7 linked regions of the Homo sapiens genome follow. The protein of the gene in region 1 interacts with the protein of each later gene in a biochemical or structural test. Each region holds a gene or a part of one and is shown in the gene's direction. Other genes may lie near its edges. The genes, in order: GIPC2, ATRNL1, PRR16, GNG4, CRB2, TMEM151B and SDC3.

Region 1 (2,989 bases):
AAGCAAAATTCTGAACTGGAGTTCTACTTCAGCAGTACTTCACCTTAACATTCTGGCTACTCTTCTTTTACATCCTGGCTATGAGACCAGAGTTCTGGACTTCACTTTCCCCAGTGCATGCTAACTGTGCCTGTGCAAAAAGTATGTAAGTGTAATTACACACCCTCCTCTTGCACCACCCATTCACTAGCATTTATTATGCATGAGACACTGAATTAGTTACTACGGGCATAAAAGACTGAGTAAGCTACTCAAGATCTGTTGGGAGTTTATTCTTTTAGTAGGAGAGAAAAAAATACACAGAAAAATAAATGTCAGTGCAGAGCAATGTTGAATTTGCAGTCTAAGACCTTTTTATTGAAAGTGTTTCCTGAGGACCAGCATCACCTGGGAGTTGAAAATGCAGAATCTCAGGGCTGCAGAACTACTGAACCAAAATCTCCATTTTGCCAAGATCCTAGGTGATTTGTTTGTGCATTTAAGCATGAAAAACACTGGCAGAAGGGTTTAGAGAATGGGGATATCTCTTCCAGCTGTGGACAAAGGATTTCATGGAGGAGAGAGCCTTGAAGGAGAGAAGGATTTTGATGGTGGTGCTGGTGGCTAGGAGGAGGTTATCCTGGGCAAAGGCAGAAAGCAGCGAAGATAGCATTTTGAGTGGTCAGATTTATGAGGGTACAGCATTAATGTAGTGTAGTGTAGTGAGAACCAAGGGTTCTGTAGATTAGACTGCCACTAGGGTTTAGTTTTAAAGATAAACATTGGTTACACAAGGAAAAAAAAATTGTGTGTGTGTGTGTGTGTGTGTGTGTGTGTGTGTGTGTATGTATGTATTATGGATTCATGGCTTCCTGTTCTATTCACTGGAGTTATAATATATTACCATCATTACTTATTTGGATATTTAAATTATCCCTGATTTGGTCAGTGTGAACTCTTGCACTCTGACATCTATATCCTTTTCACATGTTCCCATCATTTTGTGACACTTTCTTACTTTCTGGTACAAGATAGTCTTGGTTCATATTGCACTTTGCCTGCTCTAGCCCTGGAATCTGCCATTTTTCTGAGGAAGTCTTAGTCTTTCTAATGGAGAATGGTATTTAAGAACCAAGATTTCGGTGCTTTGTGTACTCATTGTAGTTGGGATGTCATGCTTCCAGGACTGAGGAATGTGTATACACATGCATGTATGCATTTATGTCTGTATTTTTATAACACCTCAATTGGAGATATATATATATTTCCAGTGATATCTACAATTCTAATTCCATAGGGTTCATTCTTATTTTCTCCCTTTCCCTATTTATCCTTTTCTGGCAGTGACAAACTTGATTCCTGTTGTTCTGTATGTATGTGTCTGTGTATGTGTGTATGTATGTGTGTGTGTGTGTGTGTATGTATGTGTGTGTGTATGTATGTGATCCATCTCCATATGTGTAACTAATCTCTTATCACCGTGGCTGCTGCCCTCCCTCCCCATTCCCATGCCATCCTCACCACATCTGTACTCTCCCACCCCATGCCAGGCTGCCTGGCCATATAGAAGCCCTCCTTACCTTACTAGAGGTTTGATCCCTCTACTAGTTCACTGCACCCCCACCCTACTTCTGCTCTGATCCTGGTGCTCTTCTGTAGGCCACATCTCTCCCTTTTCTTCCTAGCCTGCCTTGTGTTAGGACTGAACTGATGGGAAGAGGCATAGCTTTTATCTCTCTAGACCTTGTGGCTCGTTCAGAGAAGTCATACAAACTTGGATTAGTTCATCCTTAACCTGGAAGGAAAGGAGATGCTGGAGCTTTTCCCTGGGGCTTTGGCGTTTCCCTTTCACATGGAGGTTTTTCACCCAAGTCCCACATCACATATACACCATCTCTTTCTGGTTGCTGGTGCTTCTAGGGTGCTGAGTGGAAATCCACTGAGCCTCTTGGGCTCCCAGACAGCTGGGGCAAGTCCTAAGTACTCCTGAAGATGCTGGTTCCAAGACATAGAATATGGAACCCAGGCAACTTAGTAGAAAAACTGAACAAGGCCGCCACTTTCATGTTCTATCCCAAACTGGAGAGGGGCTCAGAAAAGGTACCTTGATTCCACAGGTAGACAGATGTCTTCCTCTGCTTCTCCCCAGCTTGACTGCTCCAGTGCAAGCTGTCATCCTTTGTCTTTTTGTCTTTGGGCAGGGAGGACTGGACTCCATCTCAGTTGGCAGTGGGGGACTGGTGGAGGAGGGAGGGAGAGTAGTGACTATTAGGAGGTTGGGGAAGGGGTGTTCTTTAAGTTTCCTGCTAGGGTTAGTCACAGCCACAGGGTTTCTTTCAGGGGATCTTGTTCTACCCATGGGAATGCCAGAGGTTCCCAACTGATGGGCTCCAAGGTTGGGTAGGGGGCAAGGGTGGCAGCTGCAAACCTGGGTTCAGTGGACACATTGTTGAAAAGTATCTTTGCCACCTTGATGTGTGTGTGTGAGAGAGGGTATCTTACTGTTTTAATTTGCATTTAATTTTGCATTTAATTTGAAATATATTTATGCATGTTACTTTTAGCAAGTAATTTTCCTGTTGCCATTTTTCTCAGTCCTTTGATGCTATTTCATTTATTGTTAATTTTTTAATATTATTTTTGATAGCCACCACAATGTTTGAAGCTGGAAAGGACAAAGTAAATCCAGATGAATTTGCTGTGGCACTTGACGAAACTCTTGGAGACTTTGCGTTCCCAGACGAATTTGTCTTTGATGTTTGGGGAGTCATTGGTGATGCCAAACGAAGAGGATTATGATGTGTACACTCCATCTCTGAAGAAACAACCCATCGTTCTTTTTTTTCTCTTTTTTAAAAAGTCCTATAAGATCTGTTTTTGGACACCTTTACTAACTCTGGTTTAATTTCATGTGTATGGAATATATTCTTTGAAATATAATTTTGGTAATTTTGATTTCTGGGCACTTTTTAACATTGCTGATGTAGTATGCTTAAGAGAAATGACCTAA
Region 2 (3,500 bases), on another chromosome or scaffold:
TGCGGCTTGTCTATGAAAACAATGCAAAGAGAATGAAATCTCTTGACAGTATTTTTCAAAGAATCTAAGTTTTAAATTGATTAATTCCAGTTTATCATTTTTTTCTTTTATACTTTTCATGTTGTGCCTAAGAAAAGTTTGCCTAGGCTGGGTACTGTGGCTCATGTGTGTAATCCCAGCGCTTTGGGAGCCTGAGACAGGAGGATCACTTGAGTCTAGGAATTTGAGTGCAGCCTGGGAAACAAGGCAAGACACTGCCTATACAAAAACATTTGAAAAATTAGCTGGTCGTGGCGGTGTGCGCATTTAGCCCATCTACTTGGAAGGCTGAGATGGGAGGATCACTTTAACACAGGAATTGGAGGCTGCAGTGAGCTGAGCTGTGATTGTGTCACTGTACTCCATCCTGGGCAACACAGCAAGACCATGTCTTTAAAAAATAAAAAATAAAAAAAAAAAGAAAACTGCCTAAACCAAGTTGATGAAGATTTTCTTCATTTTTTTTCTCTAGAAGTTTTGTAATTTTAGATTTTACATTTATATTTATGGTCCATTTTAAGTTAATTTCTATATATGGGGAGAGGTATGGATCTAAATTCAGTTTTTTGGCATATAGGTATTTGTTTTAGCACTATTTGTTGAGAAGAGTATTCTTTCTCTGTTAAAGTAGCTTTGCACCTTTGTTGAAACCATTCATATATTTGTGTTTCTATTTCTGGACTCTGCTTTGTTTCTTGATCTCTTTGTCTATTTGTATGTCAGTACAACAATGTCTTGATTATTGTTTCTTTGTAAGTCTTGAATTCTGGGAGTGTTTTTCAGTTTTGTTCTTTTCCAATTATTTTGGCTACTCTGAGTCCTTTGTATTTCCATATGAATTTTAGAATCAGCTTGTCAGTTTCTATAAAAAGCCTACTAGGATTTTGTTTGTAATTATGTTGAGTCTATAGATCAATTTTGGGGAAAATGAATACCTTGTCAGTTTTGAGTTTCCTACATGGTATATCTGTTTATTTATTTAGTTGTTTAATCTGTCAGCAGTGTTTTTAAATTTCTAGTCAATAGATCTTGCACCTCTTTTGTCAGATTTTTCCCTAAGTAGTTAATATTTTTGGATGCTATTGTAAATGGCATTTTTTAAACTTTCACTTTTGATTGTTGCTATTATACTGAAACACAACTGATTTGTGTATGTTTGATTTTTTATCTTGCAATCTTGCCAAACTTACTTATTACTTGTGGTAGATTTTTGCAGATTCCTTATGGCTTTCTACTTAGATGATTATATTGTTTACAGACAAAGATATATTTACTTCTTTCTTTACAATCTAGATGCCTTTTTTTTTCTTGCCTTATTTCACTGGCCAGAACCTCTATTACAGTAATGAATAGAGGTGATGAGAGTGGTCAATCTTACTTAAGATTTAGGGGGAGATATTTGATCTTTAACCATGAAGTATGATGTTATCTGTAAGTTTTTTTTTTAGATGCCTTTTATCACACTGAGAAAGTTCCCTTCTATTCCTAGTTTGCCAAGAGTTTTTACCAGTGATGGAAACTGGATTGTATTAAATGCATTTTCTGTGCCCATTGAGATAATCATATGATTTTTTCAAGTTTGTTAACATGGTGAATTATGTACATAATTTTTGAATGTTAAACCAACCTTACATTCCTAAGATAAACTTCCTCTGACACAATATGCTTTCCTTTTTATTTTAGGTTGGATTTGGTTTGTTAAAGTTTTATTTAGAATTTTTGTATCTGTGTTCATGAGAGATATTAGTCTGCACTTTTCTTATAATATATGACTAGTTTTGGTGACAAGATAATGCTGGCCTCATATAATGAGCACCATGGGACTCTCCTGATCATTTGCTGAAAGAGTTTTTAGGGAATTGGCATTATTTCTTCATTAGTGTTTGGTGGAATTCACCATCGACACCCTCTAGGCCTGAAGTTTTCTTTAACTCCAAATTCAACTTTTATTAATATACATTCAACTTATTTAATATACAGAAGGCTATATGACTAGAATCCTTTAAAATTTATTGGCCAGAATATTGTCTATCTTGGTTAAGTATTTTTTTGGGCGTGTGAAAATAATGTGTATTCTTCTATTGATGGGTGGAGTGTTGTATACATTTCAGTTAGGTCAACTTGGTTGATAGTCTTGTTCAAGTCTTCTACAACCATTCTGATTTTCTGTCTGTTTTTACCACTTATTGAGAGAAGGGTATCTTCAGTTATAATTTTGTATTTACCTGTTTGTCCCTGCAGTCTTATCTGTTTATCCTTCATGTATTTTGAAACTATGTTATTAGGTGCATAAAATTTTGGATTATGTCCTCCTGATAAACTGAGCCTTTATCGTTATCCAATGACCATTTGTTGAAAAGACTATCCTTTTTTCATTAATGTCTTTGTACCTTTATTGAAAGTTAATTGGACGTCTTTATGTATATTTATTTTTTGACTCTTTTCTGTTCCATTGATCCATATCTCTATCCTTTTGCAAATTCCTCACTTTATTAATGTATGTATGTACTTTATTAATGTATGTATATGTGTATATATATATACACATACATATATTTGAGATGGAGTCTCACTCTGTTGCCCAGGCTGGAGTGCAGTGGCATGGTATCAGCTCACTGAAATCTCTGCTCGTCAGGTTCAAGCGGTTCTCCTGCCTCAGCCTCTTGAGCAGCTGGGATTACAAGCATGTGCCACCTCACCTGGCTAATTTTTGTATTTTTGGTAGAGATGAGGTTTTGCCATGTTGGCCAGGCTGGTGGTCTCTAACTCCTGACCTCAGGTGATCCACCCACCTCGGCCTCCCAAAATGCTAAGATTAGTATATTTTTACAGTAAATCTTGAAGTTAGATAATGAGATTCCCCCAACTTTATTTTTATTTTTGAAAATTTACTTGGTTCATTTTGTTTTTCATATACATTTTAGAACTGTTTGTCAATTAAAAAAGTCTTGCTGGGATTTTTATTGAGATTGTGTTGACTTAGTAAATCATTTTGAGGAGAATTGATATGTAAATAATATTGAATTATCTCGTTCTTCATTGCAGTATGTTTTTTTCATCTATTTGGGTTTTCATTGATTTTTTACAACAGTTTTTTGTAGTTATCAGATACAGATTCTGTGTATATATTTTTAGTGTTTTTTTTTTTTTTTGAGATGGAGTCATGCTCTGTCACTCAGGCTGGAGTGCAATGGCATGATCTCGGCTCAATGCAACCCCTGCTTCCTGGGTTCACGCGATTCTCGTGCCTCAGCCTCCTGAGTAGCTGGGATTACGGGCGCCCATCATCACGCCTGGCTGATTTTTTGTATTTTTTGTAGAGATGGGGTTTCGCCATGTTGGCTAGGCTGGTCTCGAACTTCTGACCTCAGGCAATCCGCCTGCCTCAGCCTCCCAAAGTGCTGGGATTACAGATGTGAGCCACTGCGCCTGGTCATATTTTTTGATTTTATACCAAAATA
Region 3 (3,500 bases), on another chromosome or scaffold:
AGTCATTTGCCCAACTCACTTGTCTTGTAAGTGGAGAAGTGAAGCTTCATTGCCAGGTAGCTTGGTGTCAAAGAACAGCATTAACCGCCAAGCTCTTTCACGTTTCCTATTTTTTTTTTAACATTTTCTTAGAAGTCAAGGATCTAAAAGCTTTAAAATTCTCAATTCATATTGCCAAACTGTCTTCCAGGGAGTTTTCACAAATTTTTGCTTGCAGCAGCAGCGTATGTATGGACACTGTTTCTTAAATTGGGAGTGAAGCTAATAAACCATTTCATTATTTCATTAAGGCTTGCTGTGTAGTTTATTATCTTCATGGTAACAGTCATTATTTTTGTAGGTTGCAGAAAACAGTATTGAGACAAAATTAATAGTGAATAAATTAGACCTTGCAATTTAAAATTTGCAAATAAAGATGTGCTGTGATTAATTACCTTTAACTTATTCAACAAAAATGTTGATAAGAATATTACATAGATTTTTAATATTCTGGCTGAGAAAATAAAGGAACAACTAATATGGAAGCTCGTTGATACTTAGCATTGTATATAATTGTTTCAAAGAATACAAATAATTTGGAATATATTATTCTCTTTTGTTGCTATCAAATTACCTTAGAAGAGAGGCACTATCCTTAAGTTTTCTGAGATGTTTGAGGTTTGACAGTTCTCTTGCTTTCTGCTATGACTGATGAATTAGAGAATCTTGTTGAATTCTTTACTAGGAACAACATTATTGAACTGGCTAATGATGTCATATGTATATATTATAATTCGATTTCTTGTATTAACTTTAGTGCTATCGATTATAAACCACCTCCTCTCTCCCACATATAAGGGTTATAAGAAATGGCCTTATTCTAAAATTGTTTGTTTTCTTTTCCAGTATGTTATGAATAGAAATGTTTTTATTGTATTAAAAGTTAGTTCATTAGGATAATTACTCTGAATTAAATTTCCCACAGGAACTGGGAACCCAAAGTCAGCAGAAATTCATCTTTAAACAAGAACCAGAAAGTAGCATTAACTGAAATGAGAAAATAAAGACATATCTAATATCCAAATCAAAGTAGACTCACAAGGTAGTCTGTCAACTCAGGACAAATGTTGTCTTGCTTATATGGGATAAGCTATTTATTTATTTAGAATGGAAAGACATGAGGATTCCAAAGAATTTAAACTCCCAGACCTCACTTTCAGGCAAGAAATATTAACACTGTTAGGACTGAATTTATATTCATCATCTTTGTTTTCTCTCTTTCTACTTTGCAAATGCTGCTTCAGATTGGTGTTTGAGATAAATGTTTACTTGTAGAATAATTGAAGTTAGGCAAATTACATACTTATGCTCAATGACACAGTTATCATGATGTTTGGGACACTATAAATAGATTTTCAACTACAGATAACATATGTTATCCTTGTCTGGAAAAAGAAAATTTGATGATTTCTGACAGGTTCTTTTTGTAGTACCACACAAATGTTAACAGATACATTGGTGTGCATTTTCCCCTTTCATAATATCACCTTATCTCAAGATTTCAAACTGTGTGTTTATATGAGAGAAAAATACTGGGTTAAACAATATCAGTCAAATCAATTGCCTTCTAGCATCAGTGGTTCTTAATAGTCTCCCTCCCCCCATATCACAAACCCCTTTGAAAAAAGGAAAAAAAGTTGGGATTATTTCTTCTGGAACAAAAGCTCACACAAACGTGGTTCCTGCACATGTTCAGGGAATCTTGGGTGGGTGGGAATGACTCAGGTAAAGAGACAAAACAAGTGGTTGATTGCCATTTTATTTTTTAGAAATTTTAGCTAATTGTTTGAGGTTTGGCTCCATAATTTTCAGAATTAAAAGTCCTGGCCCTACAAAAAGAAAAAAAAGAAATACTGATGGCTGTGGTTTGATGTTTTTTATGTAGGGGAAAAAAATGAGTGGCATATCAACAGTTTCTTTCTCTTAGGATGTGATGTCAGTGTGAAAATAGGTGGTATATTTATAATTCACGACTTTGCAAAAGCTGTAGAATGCTTGTGTGTCTGAAAGTTAACTCTTTCATTTTGTCGTTTCTTATGATGTTTGCCATAGTATATCAGTAAATAGATGGACAAAAAGTTTTCAGAACTCATTGTAAATTAAGCATATTCTCTTCTTAAAACTGATTGCAGATCAGCATTTTTATTTGTTTTATTTTTTTCTTATGTCACATTAACATGAATTATGAAAGACATATTGAATTCTTGATATGTGTAAGTCACTGTGCTGAAGAAAGTAAAAGATGCATATATGAATAAGCTTAGTGATCTGCCCTTGAAGTAACTATTTTCTGTTTACTTTTGATGACAGTGATAACACTGTAGGCTATTATGAATTGACATAACTTTGTAATTTTAAAGCCCAAATATCAGAGGTATATTTATGTTTATCCAATTATATATAGAATGAAGTATAAATTTGATTGCCTCTTTATTGCATAGCTCAATGTTTTTGATAAATATTTGGGGTTATCTTTTGTTTTAAAGAATAGGAGAATTTTTAGTCTGTGTTGCTCAGTAAGGTGGCATAGTATAGAAGGGTGAGAGCACAAACTCTGAAGCCAGTCTGCTTTTTTTCAAATTGCTCTGCTGTGCAATATTGAGCACATTATTTAATTTCTCTCTGTTTTCATTTTCTCCATAGTGTGGCGATAGTGACAGTGTTATGTGCAGTATAGGTTGGTTATGAAGATTAAATGAGTTCTTTGTAGAACGTTTAGAATGGTTCCTATGCATAAAGCAAGCATTGTATGTGTGTCTGTCATTAGTGTTATTATTTGAATTTGTCTGAGCCCCTTTATTCATTTATTCAACAAGTAGTGTTTAACACCTACTGTACACCAGGCACTGTTCTAGTTTCTAGGGATATAGTGGGGAACAAAACAGACAAAATTCCTTCATGGAGTTTACATAGTGGATGGGGAGGGTAGGGAGAAGATAGCTCAGTAAAATAAACACTAGTTTACATCAAATATTAGAAGGTGATTTATCTTATGAAGTAATAGAAGATTATAATGGGATGAATAGTGATGAGGAGGAAGTGCAATTTTAAATAGGATTGTTCAGAATAAGCCTCACTGAGAAAGTGGCATGGTGGCATTGGGGAAAATGCTTGAAGGTGAAGGAGCAAGCAGTAAGGAAATCTAGGGGAGCATTTTCCCAAGTAGGGAATAGCAGCCCAAGGGCCTTATAGTGGACAAGTTTCCCATGCATTTGCAGCAGAACAAGGGCCCAGGGTGGCAGGAGTGGACGAGCAGGGCAAGAGTAGCAGTGATAAGGTCAGATAGATATGGGGGACATGTCTAAGGATTTTGATTCTTCCTTAGAGTAAAATGGGACTTCTGAGCAGGGAGGTGACTAAATCTGCTATACTTTCATCTTTTTACCTTTAATCACTGGCTCAGGGTTTCTCAAACTCTGCACTATTGACATATTGAGTGGATAATTCTTTGTTGGGGGGAT
Region 4 (3,500 bases), about 160 Mb from region 1:
TCAGTGCCAACTCCCCATTCGCCCTGCCCATGCCTGGTGACCACCGTTCTACCTTTTTCCTCTGTGAATCTGACTACACTAGGTATCTCATATAAGTGGGATCATACAGTATTTATCTTTTTGTTCCTGTCTTATTTCACTTAACTTATCGTCCTTAAGATCCATCTATGTTGTAGCCTGTATCAGAACATCATTCCTTTTCAGGGCTGAGTTGTATTCCATTGCATGGATAGACCACATTTTGTTATCCATTCATCCATTGATGGACACCTGGGTTATCTCCACCTTTGGACTATTGTAAATAATGCTGTTAGGAACATGGGTGTGCAGGTATCTGTTGGAGTCTTTACTTTGGTTCCTTTGGGTACCCACAAGTGGAATTGCTGGATCATAGGGTAACTCTATGTTCAACCTTTTTACCTTTTTTTTTTTGAGAGATGGAGTCTCACTCTGTTGCCTGGGCTGGAGTGCAGTGGCATGATCTCAGCTCACTGCAACCTCTGCCTCCTGAGTTCAAGTGGTTTTCCTGCCTCAGCTTCCCAAGTAGCTGGGATCACAGGCATGAGCCACTACACCCAGCTAATTTTTGTTTTTAGTAGAGACAGGGTTTTACTATATGTTGGCCAGGCTGGTCTCGAACTCCTGACCTCAGGTAATCTGCCTGTCTCGGCCTCTCTAAGTGCTGGGATTACAGGCCTGAGCCACCATGCCCGGCCTTATGTTCAGCCTTTGGAGGAACTGTCACGCTGCTTACACAGGGGCTTCATCACGTCACGTCATCACCAGCAGTGCACAGGAATTCCCGTTTCTCCACATCCTGACCAGCACTTGTTTTCTGGGTTTTTTTTTATTAATGTATTTACTTTTTTTTTTTTATTAATGTATTTACTTTGACAAGTAAAAATTAAAGTCACTCACTATCATGACGACAGTACTGAGGGGGATGGTGTATATTTATGGTGTACAACATGAAGTTTTGACATAGGCATACATTGTGGAATGGCTAAGTCAAGCCATTTAATGTATGTATTCTCTCACATACTTAGTTTTCTGTGGTGAGAACACTTAAAACCTATTCTCTTAGCAATTTTCAAGTATACAATACATTGTTATTAATTGTAGTCACCATGATGTGCAATAAACCTCTCGAATTTATTTCTTCTAACTGAATTTTTTTTTTTTTTTTTTGAGATGGAGTCTTGCTCTGTCACCCAGGCTGGAGTGCAGTGGCATGATCTCGGCTCACTGCAACCCCTGCCTCGCGGGTTCAAGCAATTCTTCTGCCTCAGCCTCCCAAGTAGCTGGGATTACAAGTGTGCACCACCGCGTCCAGCTAATTTTTGTATTATTAGTAGAGACGGGGTTCGCCATGTTGGCCAGGCTGGTCTCAAACTCCTGGTCTCAGGTGATCCGCCTGCCTTGGCCTCCCAAAGTGCTGGGATTACAGGCCTAAGCCACCGCAGCCAGCCCTGAAACTTTGTGTCCTTTGACCAACATCTCTCTAATCTCACCACCCCACAGCCTCAGGTAGCCACCATTTTACTCTCTATTTCTATAAATTTGACTTTTTTACACTCCACATATAAGTGAGATCATGCAGTATTTGTCCAGTGCATGGCTTATTTCATTTAATATAATATCCTTCAGGGTTACCCATATTTTCTCAAGTAATAAGATTTCCTTCTTTTTTAGGGCTCAGTAGTATTCTATTGTGTAAATATACCACATTTGCTTTATCCATTCATTCGCTGATAGACACTTAGGTTGATTCCATAACTTGGCTATTTTGACTAATGCTGCAATGAACACAGAAACACAGATCTTTCTTTGACATACTGATTTCGTCTCCTCGGGTTATATACCTAGTAGTGGGATTGCTGGATCCTATGGTAGTTCTATTTTTAATTTTTGAAAAACATCCACAGTTTTCCAAAATGGCTGTACTAAATTTAATTCCCACCAATGGCATACCACGGTTCCCTTTTCTCCAAACTCAGCAACACTTGTCATCTTGTGTATTTTTGATAATTGCCATCCTAACAGGTTTGATGTGATATCTTGCTGTAGCTTTCATTTGTATTTCCCTGATGATCTAGTGATGTCTGTTTTTTTAATAATAGTCACCCTAATGAGTATGAAGCTCACACATGGTTTTCAGCCCTAGGCATCCCTGGTTTCAGGGCACAGTGTGGCTTTGCAGAAAAATCTATGTGATGCAAGACTTGAAAGAAAAAAAAAGAAAAGGTGCATCTTGGTATCAGCCAGACTATACGAATGTGGAAAGAAAGGGGAGCTGTCAAGGACACTCCCGATGACCTCGTCAAGGACCTTGAGGAGGGAAGAGAGAGGAAGTCACCAGGGAAAGGCAATGGCCTTTCTGGGATGGGTACGAGGTTACTGCCAGAGAGGAGGAAGGAAAGAGGGAGGCTGGATAGGAAATGACAGAGGGCAGCCCTGGGGAAGGAGGAGAGGAGCAGTTTTTAGAATCCACTGAACTCGCACACACCATGTCAGAAACACCAGGGCCAGATGACAACACTGAGATGGGCCGGGCGCAGTGGCTCAAGCCTGTAATCCCAGCACTTTGGGAGGCCAGGGCGGGTGGATCACGAGTTCAGGAGTTTGAGACCAGCCTGACCAACATAGTGAAACCCCATCTGTACTAAAAATAGAAAACTTAGCCGGGCGTGGTGGCACGTGCCTGTAGCCGCAGCTACTTGGGAGGCTGAGGCAGGAGAATCACTCGAACCCAGGAGGCGGAGGTTGCAGTGAGCTGAGATTGCACCATTGCACTCCAGCCTGGGTGACAGAGCAAGACTCTACCTAAAAAGAAAAAAAAAGAAAACACTGAGATGGATTTTCCAAGGAAGAGGAAAAGGCCAGGCCCATACTGACTGCATAGTGAGAATGCCTAGCAGGTGAATGTGCACACGACGATAGGGCAGGCTGCATGGGAACCAGCTGGAGGGTCCATGGTAGGAATCGTGGCAACTCCCAGGCCCACAGAGCTGGCTTCCAGGTGAGAGCACGGCAGATGGGAACCCAAAGAGGACATCCCAGGCGAGGGCAGGTACCAGCAGGAAACCAAAAGGGAGCCCCCGGGATGGCATGGTATGTAGCCAACCATAGGGCCCACCACCAGGCTCTGTAGCTTATTGTGCTCAGGAGAGTTTCTAAGGAGGAAGGAAGGAAAAGAAGGCATTTGCCGCCCAGGAAAATAAGGGGACATCTGTCACTGGGAAGAGAAAGGAAAATATAACTGCATTAAGCAGTTCTGGGGTTGCAGAAGTAAGAAAGAGTAATAGTGCCAATTCAGAGAGCTTTGCACGATTCATGGAGGAAAAACGTAGCTGAAATATTCATTATTGTCTTGAAGTTCTGCTTGTCCCCATTTGCACAAAAGCACAAGTGCAAATATAGACTTCAGTAGGGGATATAGATTGAGGCATTACACCACAAAGCCCACAGCAAGATCTTAAACCCACACACAGTGTGGTTCA
Region 5 (3,500 bases), on another chromosome or scaffold:
CCCTTTCCTGATGACTGAGTGAGTGTCTGCAAGCCTCCATGGTTATTCAGCCCTACCCTTGTAGGGTAGAGCCTTGGGGCCCAGGGATATTAGATGAACAATTTCTTCCCCTATGCTAGAAGTTCCCACACCTTATGAGATCTTAGGTCGCTTCTTAGAAATATTCTGTCTCTTGATTTGTTGGGACAGGAAGCTTCCCCAGTAAATGCTTCTTTTTTTGTTTGTGGTTTTTCGTTTTTGTTTTGTTTTTTTTTTTTTTTTTTTTTTTTTAAGAAAGGGTCTCACCCTGTTGCCCTGGCTGCAGTGCAGTGGCAAAATCATAGCCCACTGTAGCCTCGACACCCTGGGCTCAAGCCATCCTCCCACCTCAGCCTCCCAAGCAGCTGGGACTACAGGGACCCACCCCATGCTTGGCTTATTTCGTTTTGTTTTCATAGAGCCAGCGTCTCACTATGTTTGCACAGGCTGGTCTTGAGCTCCTGGCCTGAAGTGATCCTCCCACCTCAGCTTCCCAAAGTGCTGGGATTACAGGTGTGAGCCACTGCACCTGGCTTCAGTAAAACACTTCTCATCAGTTGTTGGCTGTTATAAACAGGCCCATTCTAAGTGCATGAAAAGTAGGAGTTACTAATGAGTGAGGCCTGAGACACAGTGGGATTACTGACAGCTGGGTTCTGGATAGACGGGGAAGATTGCCTGCTCTGCCCAGGCTGATATTGGAAGCTGTATTCCTGTGAAAACCTTTAGAGATTTTTTTTTTTTCCTGGGTGAGGCAGCTGTAATGTACTAAAGCAACAATATGTGAGTGGCAATTTAGGGTTTGTAAAGTGAAAATTTCACATGCATTGGGAGATGTGGACCTCTGGGAAATCAGGAGCTGATCTGATTCTTCGTCTCAACCTGGGCAAAATTATCAACCTCTCTGAGTTACAAAAACAGAAATTTTCTTAATGGCACCCACCTTTTCTGGTCTGAATCAAGTATAACAATGTAATAATAGATGCACAGGCCCAAGCACATAGTACACACTCAGTAAACAGCTGGGTCCTCCTGCCCCTCCCCAGGACAGGGCAGCAGGTCGAAGGGGAGGGGCGGGCGTCGGTTAATCCCTCCCTGCCAGGTCGGCCCAGGCAGCCTGAGGTCAGGAGGGATTTGTAAAGATAAGCACAGGCCCCTCGTTGCCCTGGCAACAGGCCCCGCCCCTCCAGCCTGGCCCGGGAAGGGGGGACAGCCCCTCCTCCGCCCTGCTGCCCTCCACACCCCGCCCCTCCTTGCCTCTCCTGTCTGGCCTGGGCTATCGTGGCCTCCTAGGCTCACTCCTGGAAGACAGAGACAACCTGAGGTCAGCGGTTCCCACACCTAAAAGTGAAAGGAATCCCCCAGGAGCAGGTTGCGATGCAGATTCTCAGGCTCAGGGCCCAGTGGTTCTAAATTTGGGGTCTGGAGTGGGTTCCAGGAATCTGTATTCTTAATGTGGGCCCGTGATTCCGGGAAGCTTGGAGTGAGGCCCTGGGTTTGGATTCCAGCCTCCCTTGGGCTGTGGACTGTGAGGCTGCTTCGAGTCTCCCTTTCCTGAGCTGTAAAACAGGCATCATAATCCTATCCACCTCGGAGGTAAATGCCAAGATCAACTGAGATGACACATGAAAGATGGCTGTCCCTCCCAGGCAGGACTGTGGCACTATTGCATGCCTCCCAGGACGGGCAGCTCCTTCCCTTCCTGCCTGGCTCTGACTGGAGAAATTCCTTCCTCCCATGGGGTTGGACTCTGTCTCCCGGGCTCTGTCATTTAGAGCCCATCTGCTCCCATGGTCCTGGGAAGATCCCTTGTGACAAGGCACCTCCCCCGCCCCCCAGGATCCTTTCCCCGGTGCTGCCTCCCCAGCGTGGTCCCAGCTGCTCTGAGATAGGGGGCAAAGCTTCAGATTGGATGGGCGGGGAGGGGGGGGGGTTCCTTGCACTGCACAGGTGAGGGACAGTGCTCTGTGGGAATTAAGTGAGGGACCTGTTGGCACAGGCGCTGGCAGCCGGGGCCCTTTACCATGGGTTATGAGTGCTGCACCCTCCTGAGCAGTGCTGGCCACACCCAGTCCCAGGGCTGTGCCCTGCATCACCTTGGTGAATCCTTTCAACACCTCCATGAGATGGGCACTTTTTGCACCCCAGATACAAACCAGGACTGCCCGATGCCCCAAACCTGTGCCCTTTCCTGGGGGAGCTGGAAGGATGCGGGTCAGGCCACAGGACAGCCCTGCCTGGAATGCGGATGACGCCTGAGAGGCTGCCAGCCTTATCTGGGGGGCTTCACCAGAGTGGGGGAGGGAAGGGTGCAGGGTCTGAGCTGTTCTGGGGTCTGGTGAGTGTCTAGATGACAACCTGGGTGGGGGAGGGGCACCTTTGGGAGCTCCGGATGGGGGTGGGGGGAGGAATGGAGGCTGTGTCTTCTGGAGGCTCTCCTCCCCCATCCCTTACCGAGTTGTTACCAAAAGCAGCCCTTGACTGCGGTGCTGGGGAGCTGAATAGTTCAGCATTTGATGAGGGGATTCTTTTATGATCTAATTTTCAGACTGGGAAACGGAGGCTCTGTAGGAGAAATGACTTACCCAGGGTCTCATAGCTAGGAACTTTCTGAGCTGAAATTGAACCCAGGTCTGTTTCACTTCAAAGCTCAAGTTCTCACCTGGGCATTGTGGTGACAAGGCTCTCAGGAAGGCAGGAGGAGAGGAAGGGGGATGAGGATCTCTGGGCGTGGCTTCCAAGCCGGTTGGTGACCCTCTGTTAGAGCCCCGGTGCTGGAAGCATCATGGTGGCCAGGGGCAGGTGTCCGTGAGCCATCTCAATACCTGCTCTGTACCATGCGACCTTGGCCAGGCCGGCCACTCAGGTGTTTGCTGATGGGGGATGAAATTAGGGCCAGGGACCCTCTAGAAGTTCCTAGGCCAGTGGCTGGCAGGGGGTGGGTAGTGATGTGGAGAAGGGGTAGGAATGAGACCAGCGGAGCACACGATCCCTGCTTTTGAAGTTGTCCACCCATCCTCCAGAGGTTGAGGTCGGGCCCATCTCCAGTTTCACCCAGGGATGGAGTTACCAGACCCCTGGCAGAAGAGGTGGAGGGGGCAGTGGGAGGAGCCTCACCCTCTGGGGCCTCCTTGGATGGATGGGGCCTGCAGGAGGGAGACCCCTCCCCAGGTGGAGCTGAAATAATCCAGATAGACCTTGAAGCCTGTCCCAGCGAACACTAACTTGCTGTGTGAAGTGGACAGGGCTGGGCAGGCTCAGCAAGCCTTCACTTTCTTTCCTGGGCCTCCTTTTGCTGTCTGGTGCAATGGGCATGACGGATACTGCCTCAAAGGGGGACTGCAGGGACAAGACAGTGGAGGGAAGCTCACGGGGCTCAGGGAACCTCTGCTCACTAATCCTGCCCAGAAGCCAGACATCCTTGGTGCTGTTTCTCTGCTATATAGGCTCTCCTAAAACCGTTCCCAGTTCTGGGTGCAGAT
Region 6 (3,248 bases), on another chromosome or scaffold:
CCTGTACATAAAGAGACCGATGGGTGGGAGGGGGTCGGCTGCTCCCCGAGATCCCCCTGGCAGAGTCATTCTTCCAGCCCCAACCCTGAGTTCCTAAAGGGACACCTCCCTCCTGTCCAGCCCTTCAACAGATCTTCTGTTAGATGACAACCGTGCCGTGGGCCCCGCGTTGGGCCTTGTCTGAAGGGAGAGGCCCTGGCATGCGGATGGGAGATTTAGAGGCTGTGGAGAAGGGAACTTGGGGCTTTCCTTCCTTCGTGGCCTCACTCCCCTGGGGCCTCTCTCTATGGAGGGGGCAATGGTTTGGTGACCAGCAGGCTGGATTCCAACTAGCTAATGCATTCAGCAGGTCTGAGGCTGGGGCCAGGTGTCAGCCCTAGGCCTCCATCCAACACCGTGGAAATGTTGCTGCCCTCTTCTTGGCGCTGACCCCAAGATTGGGGTTTCCTTTCTGCCGCTCCCTCCACTGTTGTTTATCTAACTGGGCCCCCACTCCAGGTCCAGAGGGACTGTGCTCACTGCACAGACATCACTCACCTTCCGCTCCCCAGTCCTGCAGAGCTGTTGCCAGGGTGCAGTGGGGAGGGGAGTGAAATGTGGAGGACTGTGTACCTCAGTCCTCTCTCTAAACTCCTCAGCCTCCCAACAGGGGCCTCCTCACCTGGGTTCTGAGTGTATACCCCTTTTAGAGAGTGAGATGCCACCCGGGCAGCACTCGTTAAAGCTGGCCAGCACGAGTGACTAAGGGGAGAGAGCATGACATAGACCTGGGTGGCAACGGGGACCTCTGGAAGCAGGTGGGAGTAAGAGAGGAGAGGGCAGTGGAGGGTAGAGGAAAAGGACCTCCAGAGGTGGGGTGTCTGTGGGGGCGGCCTTTGCCTCCCTAAACCTGTGCGGAGGAGTGGAGTGTGCTTGTCGCTCAAACACATCTCTGGGGGACTGAGGACGTTGTCACAAGCCCCAACTGGAGAAATAATTCCAATGGCAGGGTCAGAGGCAAGCATTCTCTAAATCTTGCCCAACCCTTCCATCCTTCCCTATCCTATGAGCTGAAGCCCTGCTGTGTGTCGCAGGGTCTTCAAAGGGGCATCCTGCCACCACCCCAGGGCGCTGGCCCCACGTCCTGTTCCCCTAAAGCTCTGACACCGCCTTCTCTCCGTGTGCTCCCCCCACCACCTCCACCCTGATGTGCTTCAGTGTGCATGTCTGTGAACAGCCCTCCTGCCCTGCCAACTCCCCTGGCTAAAGTCTCCCCAGCAGATTTAGCACCCAGGGATTGAGCTCACATTTCAGGCTAGAGAGGATAACCCTTGGGCCACCCACATCTCTCACCCCTGATGCTTCTTACTTCGCCTGAGCCATCAGAACTCCTCCTTACCCTCCTTCAGCCCCTCTCATCTTCCTTCAGCCCAGCCAGGCCTGCACCACCAACTGTGTGGCCTCCACCTATGCAACATCGCCTCTGGCTCCCCTTCCCTTCTTCCTAGCGGGGAGTGCGAGGGGCCCAAATTGTGGGGATACCATGGCCCATGGCTTCTAAAGGGTTTAGCTTTACTTTCAGGTAGAGATGGCTGAGTGAGGAGGGAGAAGAGGCTAGAGAGAGGGAGGCTTGGGCAGGGGAAACAGCTGCCCACCAGGTTTTCCTGGACAGCAGTGCCCACCTGCCTACTAGCACTGAACCTGCCTGGACCCTGAGTCTGTGCTCCTTGGGGGCCTGGCGTTTGGAGCACCCTTCTTTCCTCTGAATGGACATCTGTGAGGTACAGGTGGTGAGCTGCAGCCTCAGGCTCCATTTCTTAGCCAGCTGGCACCTGGATGTCATGCTTTGTGTGGGGACAGCCTGGCCACCTCAGGGCTCCAAGGAAGGAGGAACGTGGCTCCTCCTCCCTCAGGCCTGTTCCTGAGACAGAGCCTGGTCTCACAAGAGGGGAAGGGGGACCTCTATTATTATTTTTGCCTGTATTGACCATTTCTGCCTAGGTCGTCTCAGACAGCCTCATCTCCCACACATGCACAGACTTAGAGAGAAACCAATTCTTTGGTCTATTTTCTTGGTAGCTTTACTGATTGCCAGGGAAAATGAAAACCAGAAAATTAATTAATCTCTAAAATTAAACTTTACACTGAATGTTCTTGTTTCTCTAATTAGAACTTCTGCTAGCAGCTGTGGCTATACACACACACACACACACACACACCCTCACACCTACACGTTTGCACTCCGGAACTGTCAGAGGGTGTCAGGCACAGACAGACTCTAGGTTGCCTAGACAGGCACACACATGCAGTCACTCCCAAGCCCCCTTTGGTGCTCTGCTCAGCGCCTGCTTAGCGGAAGGAGTCCCTGGAGAGCAGGCACTCCTGGACTGGGGTTGTAGCCCATGACCTGCCCTTTGGGGACACAGTTCTGGAGGCTCTGGGCCAATGAATCAGCCCAAGGAGGATGGGCAATGGCGCTCAGCCTGAATCAGTCAGCTAGGTCTCTTGTGGCCCTGGGGGCTGATGTGATTCCTGTAGGTGTGGCCCCAGGGTGGACAGCTACAGAGTGATGGGGGACTCATGTAGGGCACCTGGAAGGCTCCATGTGTCCTGGGGACAAGGGCTTGTGGGGTGGGCTGGGCCTGGCTGGGGAGAAGACAGGTCTCTGTCAATTGGGTGCATCACACTGTGGCCTTTTTGTCGTGGATTTAAGCGCAAAGATTGTACAAATCAAACTGGTGGATAATAAAGTCGTGGATGACTCACTGACTTCCTGTCCCAGTGTGGCACTTCTTTCCCTCCCTCCCAGGGAAGCTCTCTGGGGTGGGTGGCAGGGATTGTGTCATCCTTCCCTGGAAGTTGTCATCTACAGTTGCCTCCCCAGAGGAGTCCACTGGGTCTGAGCCCCTGGTGTCAGCTCATTGTCCCCTTCCCAGGTTGGGAGTTGGGGAACTAGGGGATGGCGTGGCCTGTAGAACTGGATCACTTAAAGCAGAGTCAAGCAACAGGGAAATGCATCTACAGGGATGAGGGTGGCAGAGAGAGCCAGGCATAGCCCTGCTGTAGCCAGAGGGTGTGTGTGTGTGTGTGTGTGTGTGTGTGTGTGTGTGTGTGTGTGTGTTTGAAGATCAAGGATCTGTTTGGTAGAGAAGAAAATGGTGGGGAGTCAGGGAGGCAGGCAGCCCCAACGGGAGAATCTGGCAGGCACAGTCCCTCAGACACCTCTCTGACTTCCCTGTTCCTGAAAGAAGTTGGTCATTTGTGGGTGT
Region 7 (3,500 bases), about 47 Mb from region 1:
TACCCTAGGGCATGTGTACAGGCAGCTAGGGGTGAAGTAGATGGGTGAGTGTGTGCTGGTGTGGGCTGGGCTGTATTGCCTATAGGCTGTGGTGAGTATACAGATTGGTGTGGGCAAACATTGCACTTAATAGTGTGTGTGTGTATCCATTGGGGTGCATAGTACATGCAGAAGAATATATATGCATGAGGATGTTGGGCTGTCGTGTGTGTGTGTGTGTGTGTGTGTGTGCATGCGTGCGCGCGTGTCTTGGGGGTATGGAAGCCTCCTATCAGGCATGGGGGGGTTGTGTTTACCTGGAGGGGGCACAGTGAGGGTCAAGGAGAAGCTGGCAGCGTCCTGGGGCTTTTGGATTCAGTTCTCCTTTAAGGGAATGGCATGGATAATTATGCTTATTATGATGGATTATGCAAATGCGGAGGTCGTTTGGGGGTCAAAGCCTGCTTGTCACCCTCCTCCTCAGGCATTCTGTGACTTCTAAGGCTTTCCCTGCTGCCTCCCAGGCTCCGTTCCCCAACCCCTATTTCTCTGTCCCCTCTGGGAGTTGCAGCTACCAGCACCCCCTCTGTAGTGTTCCTGAGAGGGCCTCATGAGTCCCAGCGCCCATGCCTGCAGGTCCCAGGTGTCCTCGCATTAAGTTCCCGCTGAGCATCCCAGGTGGGCTCAGGGGTGACTGGGCCGTTCCTCCCCCTGCACACCCTGCCATTGGGGATGCTTGCTGTTCGGAAAGAATGTACTCTTGGAAGCAGGTTTGGAAAATTACTGAGGTGGCCCCTTCCCCAGCCTTGCCTCATCAGCATGAGGCTAAATTAGGATGTGTGAGTTCTCCCCTCTGCCTCCCACCCTTGCCTTCTCTCCTTCTCTCGTACCCCCAGCCCACCCTCCCCGTCTCTGCCCCTCTGCCCCCTGGCCTCCCTCAGTCCTCGACTCTCTGTCACCGTCTCTGTCTCTGCCTCCCCCTTCCCTGTCATCCTCTCAGTTCCCCCGTGATCTCTCCCTCTCCTGTACCACCCCATCTCTGTGGGGAGCTGCAGCTCCTGGTCGTTAGCATGGAGAAGATGGTCGTCATGGTAACGGTTGTCATGTCGATGGCTACTGAGCTGGGGATGAATAGTATGTAGGTGAGCGCTACCTGAGTGGAGGCTGATGGGTTTCCAGGAGGCTCGATGCTTGTCTCTGAGCTCAGAGCTGCACAGCAGGCCCAGCTCCTCCTGCCCCATGTGAGTGGCTGTTTTTACCCCCAGGCATGCTGACACGCTGAGCCCTCTGTGGCTGCTTTTAGGTGAGCATGTTTCAGTGTGTGTCTGTGCATGTGCTGTGTCTCTGGGGTGTGTCATTTCAAGGGTCTATGTGGCATGGGGGTAGGTCTTTGGGTTTGTACAGGCTTTTCTTGGAGCAGGAAGTTAGGGGCTAAGTGGCACTGGTCACTGAGGAATCTTGGGGACTCCCTTGTTTTGGCACCCACATTTACTTCAGTTGGGGGCTTCCAGGGACCACAGACCTCTTAGTATCCCTCCTCCCAGCTAAAGGCCTCCCAGCCACTGCCCAGCCTACTGGGAAGGATAGAAAGACAGTGAAGACAGCCCTGGGCAGGGGCAGGAGCCGGAGCCTGGGTCCCTGCTCAGTCCCCATTCTTCTGTGTGACTTCAGGCTGCTTGCCAGAGAGCTGGAGGGAGCAGGGACTCCAGGTTGGCTGGTTCAGGTTGTGGAGGGGAGTGCCATGGGGAGTTCTAGCTCCTCCACCGTGGGTATTTTTCTTTCTGGGCAGAGGGGAGCTGGGGAAAAGTTGGGCCCTACTGCTCTGAGCTCCTAGAATGTTTAAAAAAGGAGGAAGACCCAGCAATTCGTCACGGGAGAAATTACACTAATTGTTCCACTCCATGACTCACTGGTAGAAAGTAAATACTGATTAATTCATTACTTTGAGACTATGTGTGTGTGTGCATTTTGTGAGGGGGCACCTCCTGGCTCCCTGCCCTGGCTGGGCTGGGCAGGGCTCTGGAGCAGGTGGTTGAGGCTGGGGATATGAAGACAGGATTGAGATCCTCACTCTGGCTCTGTATCAACTCCAGAAGGGGGCCCATCAGTGGCAGGGGGTGAGAGGCTGGGCCCCAAATGCAGGGCCATTCCAGCCCTCGCCTGCTCACACATGCCCCAGGGCTCCCCACAGCCAGCCCAACATTGCGGCTGCTCAGAGACCACCCCAGACCTACTGAACCACTGAATTTAGTTTTCACAATATTCAGATGTGCAGTCAAGATGAAAAATGACCAGTTTCTAAGAGAAAGTCATCAGCCAGACACTGAAAGCCTTCTGGGATGGGACCCCAGGTGACTTGCCACACCCCACCCCTGCCCTGTGAATTATTCACACACGCACTTTCCTTCAGGGTACACACAAGATCTCTGTCACCCACGTGGATGTCACTCAGCCCACAAGGGCACCTGTCGCCCTTCTGGGCTCACCCAGGCTGCCAGTCTCGGGTGCCGAGCCCTGTGTCCACCTCTACCTTCCCTAGGCCCAGCGCTGGCGCAGTGAGAACTTCGAGAGACCCGTGGACCTGGAGGGCTCTGGGGATGATGACTCCTTTCCCGATGATGAACTGGATGACCTCTACTCGGGGTCGGGCTCGGGCTGTAAGTACCCCCCTCCCTACCTCTGCCTGGGGGCAGTGACCAGTCTGTATCCAGCCTCAACTCTGAGAAGCCCACGGGGGGCTTGCTTCAGTGAGGCAGGGGGCATTCACTGCCTGGGTCAGGCAAGTTCTTCTTGCTCTGGATCCCCAGAACAAGAAGGGCAGAACATCCTTCTGGGGATAGAACAAGACCTGGGAGGACCTCAGGGCCCAGAATGTCCAGGTCTCCAGGGTCCCACGTCTGCATCTTTGTGTGTGCTATGTGGCTTTCTCTGCAGACCTTGCTTGGTTCCGGTGGTCCCGTCAGGTGCAATAAGCTGTGGCCAATGGTGGGGTTAGGGCAGTGATGACACAGGGCAGGTGCTTCAAGTGGTGCCTGGGATGGCCCCGCCCTGGGGAAGGGGAGCCAGGTCAGCTGGGTCTAGCAGAATCTCGGGAGAGAAGGGCACCGCGAACCCCACTCTGCCATGTAGCAACTGTGTGCCCCTCGGTGCTCCCCCTCCCTGAATCCCTGTATTTTCACCTGTGGATGGTGAGAAATACGACTTCTTCTCAGTGCCTCTAGGAGGGTTTGGGATAGGAAGCTGGGGTCTGGCACAGAGGAGGAGCTCTCAAAATGGTAGCAAAAAGAAGGCAGCTGAGACTGGGCCCAGTGAGGGCACGGGCTGGCATCTGAGGAGATGGTACGGGGTCTGCACGCCACAGAGCTGGCTCCCCACAGCCCTCGCCTCTGGTCTCCCCTCCTTAGCCAAGTCCTTTGAGCCTCTTTCAAATTAATCTTTGTAAAACCCGTTTATATTGGGTCACATCTCTATTCGCAAAGTTCCCTGGCTCCCCTCCCTCCTGCCTGGTTCCGAGCCCAGGA

Evidence for each region.
Region 2: the proteins of GIPC2 (region 1) and ATRNL1 interact in a test that uses a peptide from one of them, tested with the Homo sapiens proteins (one large-scale study listed by IntAct).
Region 3: the proteins of GIPC2 (region 1) and PRR16 interact in a test that uses a peptide from one of them, tested with the Homo sapiens proteins (one large-scale study listed by IntAct).
Region 4: the proteins of GIPC2 (region 1) and GNG4 interact in a test that uses a peptide from one of them, tested with the Homo sapiens proteins (one large-scale study listed by IntAct).
Region 5: the proteins of GIPC2 (region 1) and CRB2 interact in a test that uses a peptide from one of them, tested with the Homo sapiens proteins (one large-scale study listed by IntAct).
Region 6: the proteins of GIPC2 (region 1) and TMEM151B interact in a test that uses a peptide from one of them, tested with the Homo sapiens proteins (one large-scale study listed by IntAct).
Region 7: the proteins of GIPC2 (region 1) and SDC3 interact in a test that uses a peptide from one of them, tested with the Homo sapiens proteins (one large-scale study listed by IntAct).

Annotation. Positions count from the first base shown.
Region 1 is NC_000001.11:78,132,966-78,135,954, forward strand, and holds part of GIPC2 (PDZ domain-containing protein GIPC2), read left to right. Parts: intron 1-2,083; exon of another isoform or gene 2,084-2,216; intron 2,217-2,626; coding exon 2,627-2,778; 3' UTR 2,779-2,989.
Region 2 is NC_000010.11:115,099,865-115,103,364, forward strand, and holds part of ATRNL1 (attractin-like protein 1 isoform 1 precursor), read left to right. Parts: intron 1-3,500. UniProt on the Homo sapiens protein: May play a role in melanocortin signaling pathways that regulate energy homeostasis.
Region 3 is NC_000005.10:120,470,800-120,474,299, forward strand, and holds part of PRR16 (protein Largen), read left to right. Parts: intron 1-3,500. UniProt on the Homo sapiens protein: Regulator of cell size that promotes cell size increase independently of mTOR and Hippo signaling pathways. Acts by stimulating the translation of specific mRNAs, including those encoding proteins affecting mitochondrial functions.
Region 4 is NC_000001.11:235,576,785-235,580,284, reverse strand, and holds part of GNG4 (guanine nucleotide-binding protein G(I)/G(S)/G(O) subunit gamma-4), read left to right. Parts: intron 1-3,500. UniProt on the Homo sapiens protein: Guanine nucleotide-binding proteins (G proteins) are involved as a modulator or transducer in various transmembrane signaling systems.
Region 5 is NC_000009.12:123,359,197-123,362,696, forward strand, and holds part of CRB2 (protein crumbs homolog 2 precursor), read left to right. Parts: intron 1-3,500. UniProt on the Homo sapiens protein: Apical polarity protein that plays a central role during the epithelial-to-mesenchymal transition (EMT) at gastrulation, when newly specified mesodermal cells move inside the embryo.
Region 6 is NC_000006.12:44,276,697-44,279,944, forward strand, and holds the end of TMEM151B (transmembrane protein 151B), read left to right. Parts: 3' UTR 1-2,748; downstream 2,749-3,248.
Region 7 is NC_000001.11:30,877,759-30,881,258, reverse strand, and holds part of SDC3 (syndecan-3), read left to right. Parts: intron 1-1,168; exon of another isoform or gene 1,169-2,318; coding exon of another isoform or gene 2,319-2,330; intron 2,331-2,518; coding exon 2,519-2,636; intron 2,637-3,500. UniProt on the Homo sapiens protein: Cell surface proteoglycan that may bear heparan sulfate. May have a role in the organization of cell shape by affecting the actin cytoskeleton, possibly by transferring signals from the cell surface in a sugar-dependent mechanism.